Regions from separate parts of the Homo sapiens genome. Here region 1 is linked to region 2. Evidence: fine-mapped expression QTL. A gene starts in region 2. The other region holds a variant in brackets. All regions are shown on one strand. Distances are between the middles of the regions. Region 1 overlaps LOC107984530 (a long non-coding RNA gene). Region 2 holds the start of TMEM19 (transmembrane protein 19).

What was found. PIP is the estimated chance that this variant, and not a neighbour inherited with it, causes the effect.
Region 1: its variant is fine-mapped to the expression of TMEM19 in blood mononuclear cells (TOPMed, PIP above 0.99). The same link has a PIP of 0.9 or more in T cells.

Annotation. Positions count from the first base shown.
Region 1 is chr12:71,717,191-71,720,113 of GRCh38, reverse strand. All of the region lies in intron 1 of LOC107984530 (a long non-coding RNA gene), which reads right to left. Among named protein-coding and RNA genes, the nearest start is that of TMEM19, 33 kb to the right of the region's middle. The variant T/C (reference allele first, on the strand shown) is at 1,294.
Region 2 is chr12:71,684,810-71,687,732 of GRCh38, reverse strand. It overlaps TMEM19 (transmembrane protein 19), which reads right to left and starts at 1,651. Exons shown (of 6, transcript NM_018279.4): 1 at 923-1,651. The coding sequence starts at 1,052. LOC124902965 (a long non-coding RNA gene) reads left to right here and starts at 1,669. Exons shown (of 2, transcript XR_007063367.1): 1 at 1,669-1,811. RefSeq lists silencers at 1,104-1,319, 1,310-1,379.

The sequences.
Region 1 (2,923 bases), 32 kb before region 2:
AAAAAAAAAAAAAAAATCAGTGTTTGCCTGTTGATCTACTCGCGTATTAGTCATTGCTGAATTTCCCCAGACAGATTTTTTGGCTTTGCAGAATGAAGATCTTAAAGAGAATGAGGACTTCAGAATGTGGCTACATCTCAGATTCAAGGAGATTTGTAAAAGCTGTCAGTGATTTCCCATTGCCGTAAGATAGAGTCCTAAATTCTGACAAGGCAAAGCTCATCGGTCTAGTCTCTTTCTGCCTGATGCTCCCACCTCCTTGTCTCACTCTCACTATGGCTCACTAGGGTCCAGATAAAAGAGCCACTTTTCCCTTACTTTAACATGCCAAGCTCTTTCCTGCCTCAGGGCTTTTCTGCTGGTTGTGTCCTGTTCCACCCTTGACCTGGCCATTGACCATTATTGCATAGACACAATCTACTAAAACTCACACAAGGAAAAAGAGATAATCGGAACAGGGCTTTCTATTTTAAAAATTGAATCAACAATTAATAACCTTCCAAACAGAAATTACCAGGCTTAGATGGTTTCATTGGTGAAGTCTACCAAAGATTTAAGGAACAAGATACCAGTTCTTTACAAACTGTTACAGAAAACAGAAACAGAGGGAACACTTTCTAACTCACTACTTTATAAGGTCAGCATTTCCCTAATGCCTAATTATAAGAAAGAAAAACTGCAGACCCATATCTCTCATGAACATAGTTTCTGTAGGTCATGAATTCAGGAGCAGCTTTGTTGGGTGTTTCTGGCTTGAAGTCCCTCATGAGGATGCAGTTAACATTTTGGCCAGGCTGGAAGCTTGACAATGACTGGAGATCTATTTTACACAGTGCTGGTTGTTGGCAAGAGACCTCAGTTTCTCCCCATATGGGCCTCTCTGCTGATTGCTTTAGTGCCCCCATGACACGGTGACTGGCCTTCCCCAATATGAGTGATCCCAGGGAAAGCAGGTGGAAGCGGCAATGTCTTTTATGGCCTAGCCTCAGAGGTCACACACCGTCATTTCATCTATGTCCTATTGGTAACACAGACCAATATTTAGTCCCCCATTCAATATGGGAGAGGACTAAAAAGGAGCCATCCTGGAGGTTGTGGATGACATCATACAATAGAATACATTTCAGCAATGGGAAGCCATGAATTACTTATACATGCCACCATGCACAGAAAGCTCTGATATTATAGTGATAAAAGCCAGACACAACAGAGTACATCCTACATAATTCCATTTGTATGTTGTTCTAGAACAGGCAAAACTATGGTCTTGCCTCTGAAAAGAGGAGGGATTGA[T/C]AGGAAATGACACAAGGGAATTTCTGGGATGATGGAAATGTTCTATATCTTGACAGGGGAGTGCTTCACATAGGCATATCATTTGTCAAAGTTGCACAGTTAAAAATATGTGTGTATTTCAATGTGGAAACATTCACCTCAGAAAAATAGGACCATAAAAAAAATCTAGCTGGGACTGGGAATGAGTGGTGGTCTAGATAAACAAGAATGGCAGCATGCCCATAATGGTTGAAGTTGGTATATTATATTAATCTGTTTGTATATGTTTAAACATTCCAAATGAAAAGCAAAAAAAAACCCAAAACAAAACCCAAACTGTTTTGTGTAATAAGCTTCTTATTCCTTTGTGTAAGAGTGTATCTTCCCTTTTGTTTTACCATGCTAATTAAAAGAGCATTTATATCTTGTGAAGGCTGCATTATTAATTACACACCAACAGGGTCAAGTCACCTTAACAATCTTAATTATAATTGAGAAGCCAAAAGTGGCTTCTTAACCCACTTCTGATAGGTGGGTAGTGAAAAAATCCTCCGACAGCCCAACTCTCCAAAATGTCATATTACTTACGTAAAAACTGGTGAAATCCATTCAGCTCTTAGGGAAAAATGGGACAGCAATCATGGCACAAAGATGGCTCAGAGACCATGTGTCCTCTCAAGTCAGTTGACTTTTCCCCCTTTCTACCAGAGGGAAGCTGAGCAGGCAACACAGTGATCTAGACATTCAGAGAGGATCTCCTACTTTTTTGTAATACCTCCTGTTTCTTCCCTTAAGGGCTCTAGGGGCATTTGGAGGTCGGGGTGGAGGTGAAAATTAAATGAGAGGAAAGGAATTTGTAAACTGGCACACAGGTTAGTTTACCATTCCTGAATCACTCCAGGATCTAATTCTAAATGCAGAAGTACATATACATTCTCACAGACGCCAGTGAACTTTCTGCCAGTACAAAACCAAGAGCCCTCTAAAAAGAATGTGCAGAACAATGTGGTGATATTAGAAAGCACAGAGTATATCCTGGAACCGGTAATAGTCTAGATGGCCTGAATACATGAGGCACGTTAGGAGAATAAATATTGAAAAGGCTAAAGAAGCATAGTGAGCCTTGTGCCTATTAGTATGCCTTATCTTATTAGGAGAAAAATGACCCCAAAAGTTTAAGAATGAGGTTTGATTAATATAGCTTGGTGTAAAAAAATTATCCTTCTTACTTTTTGCGAAATGAATTACACAAACACTTTATGCATATCAGATTGGGACTCATCTTTTTTCACAGAATAGTAACAACAATAAATGTAAAAGGAACAGAAGTACCCTGCAGTTGTATGACACTTTAGTCATGTTGAATAGTATAGTAATGGTAAAACATATTGGCTACTTACTGTCTACTAGAAACTGTACTAGGTACCTCAGGTGACTTAACTGCCTTGATCCTCCCAACTACTTCATGAAGTACTATTAATAACCCCAATTTATGTGCCAGACGTGGTCTTACGCCTGTAATCCCAGCACTTTCAGAGGCCGAGGTGGGTGGATCACCTGAGGTCAGGAGTTCAAGACCAGCCTGACCAACATGGTGAAACCCTGTCTCTGCTAAAAATACAAAAATTAGCTGGGCATGGTGGTGGGCACC
Region 2 (2,923 bases):
ACCTTATATTTAAGCAATGTAGCTTTAGGCTTTAAAAGGAGTCTATTCTTTTGAAGCAACCAAATGGCAGATAAGTCCTTCAGCTCTCCAAATGTAAATAGTATACCGTTTTTAATTCTTATTATTTTTACAGAACATGTGAAACTGATAAACTACATTACTACTTTTTTTTTTTTGAGACGGATTCTCGCTCTGTGGCCCAGGCTGGAGTGCAGTGGCTCAATCTTGGTTCACTGCAACCTCCGCCTCCAGGGTTCAAGTGATTCTCCTGCCTCCATCTCCCAAGTAGCTGGGATTACAGCTTTTTTCTAGTTTTAGTAGAGCTGGGGTTTCACCGTGTTGGCCAGGCTGGTCTTGAACTCCCGACCTCAGGTTATTTGCCCGCCTCGGCCTCCCAAAGTGCTGGGATAACAGGCGTGAGCCACCGCGCCTGGCCCATTACTAATATTCTTATTCAAAATTAAAAGCATCACTGTAATTGCTTTACAAAGCTATATTCGCCTCACTTATCTTTTACCAAGACAGATGGAATAGTTACATAAAATATAAAGACATTTTGAAATAGGTGTAACTAGTCCAGAAGTGGTGGCCTGTATTGCCAGCACTTTGGGAGACACAGGTGGGAGGATCACTTGAGCCTAGGGGTTTGAGACCAGCCTAGCAACACAGAGGGACCCCTATCTTATACAAAATAAAAATTAAAAAAAAAAAGAAATAGGTATAACTCGAATTATCACAACAAGCATTTATTAAAGGCATTGTTTATACTATCATGTTAGTAAGTTAAATCAGGCTATGGAAGTTAAGTAAACACAACCATTCATAACCATTCAGAGGATATGAGTTTTGGATTTCACAATGGTATGGTTTTAATTTCCTCTGACTAGATTACAGAGAAACAACTTAGAACACTCAGACTTACCATAATAGGTGCTTGCAGTCATTGATATAATCCAGAAAGCTAACGAAATGCAAATGATCAGGCTCAGTATAACTATATTAGTTATCATCTTTATATATCTTTTGCATATATTGTCGTTAAGATCTGTCATGGAAAATAAGGATATGAGCTCCTGCGGGAAAGAATATTTAGCGTTTCGGAGAGAAAGTCATTTACGATGTGAGCAAGACACTTGTTCAGAGGCAAACATAAATCCCAACATATTCCACCGACCAAACAAGCATAAAAATCACAAAAATTCAAACTCCTTCCGGAAACTCCTACTGGCGGAGAGCTCCAATTCATATGGGCGTGGTCAACGCCTCACCGCAAAAGCAGAGCGCAACCCGGCGGACGGTGAGGGCCGGTCGCCGGCTGCCGGCCGCTTCAGCGCCTCACGCCGGAGCCCACGGGGAAAAGAGAAAGCCGAGGCAGCCAATCCGCGGTCCCGGCGCTGGCGAGTTCCACCCACCTCCCGTCGCAACCTTCTCACCCGCGGGCCGGGTAGGCCAGCGGCTGCAAAGGGGCAGCTAGGGCACCCGAACTTGGGCAAGTCTGGGAAGCACGCCCGACGCGGCTGAACGCAGTCACGTCCCGACAGCTGCGCAAGCCGCCCTAGGGTCAGGTCCAGCCGGCCAAGGCCGAGACCCCAGGAGCAAAGCCCGCGCCTCCCGGCGCCCCCGCCTCTAGCGCCTCGCCCGCTGTGGGCATGCGCCGCAGCCGCTTAGGGGGATGTCGCCTAGCTCACGTGGGCAGGCACTGCTGGCATCCTGGCCGGCTGCGTTTGCACTGCTTCTCCAAAACCACATTATAGGTACTAAACAACATTGTTTAGTACCTATAATGTGCTAGACTCCTGGCTGCTAGCGAGGTAAAGTTAAACATAGTTTCTATTACTGAGCTCTCGTAATTATTGTCATAACACCACTTAGATTGTGGAAATATCTGTCCTCACACCCCTTATATTAAAGGTGTGTGCATTTAGAAAGCAAAACGTCTTGTTAGCATTAAAAATCTGAATCGTGGCTGATTTCTTTTCTTTTCTTTTTTTTTTTTTCGAGACAGTGTCTCTCTCTGCCGCCCAGGCTGGAGTGCAGTGGCACGATCTCTGCTCACTGCAACCACCGCCTCCCAGGTTCTAAGCGATTCTCCTGCTCCAGCCTCCGGAGTAGCTGGGATTACAGGCGCCACAACCACGCCCGGCTAATTTTTATATTTTTAGTAGAGACGGGGTTTTGCCATGTTGGCCCGGCTGGTCTCGAACTCTTGACCTCAGGGGATCCACCCACCTCGGCCTCCCAAAGTGCTGGGTTTAATGGCGTGAGCTACAGCGCCCGGCCTGATTTCATGTTTTATGTGAAATTAACTTGTTTGCCTGGGTTAACAGTAATTAACTGATAATTACATAATATTTATCAATTTTTTCAGTTAATTGCTGACAGTGTAAGAAGAGGAGCCAAATCCATTTCAGACACAGTATGCAATTGTGTTTTAAGCCCCAAGAGTAGTTACTTTAAAAAAGCTCACATTATTTTAAATTTCAAAATACATGCCAAGACAGCTTGTCATTTTCTTTGGTAAGACATCTAATTAAGTAGTTAACTAAGAATCAAATCTGTGAAGTAGGACTAAATAGTAGTGGGCTTCCTGTACTAGATAATATACATATATGGTCTTTATGCTGAAATGTATTATGTGCCTACTTTATTTTTGTCTTAGTCTGTTCTGCATAGGTAAATGTTTGGATTATTTCACCAAGCTGACTGGCCAGTATCAATGTTACCAGACTACTGGGTAAAATTATTAATAATGAAAGCTAATGTTTTGTGGTTTGCACAGTCGCATTGTTTTTGTCTCTGCTTAGACAAAATTATAAACTGGTCTTTTTTTTTTTTTTCTTTTTTTTGCCTTGCTTCACCACAGTCACAGAGTGACCCTCTCTGATTAGTTGGTGTTCGATAGGAAAATCATAGCCTAGTTGTG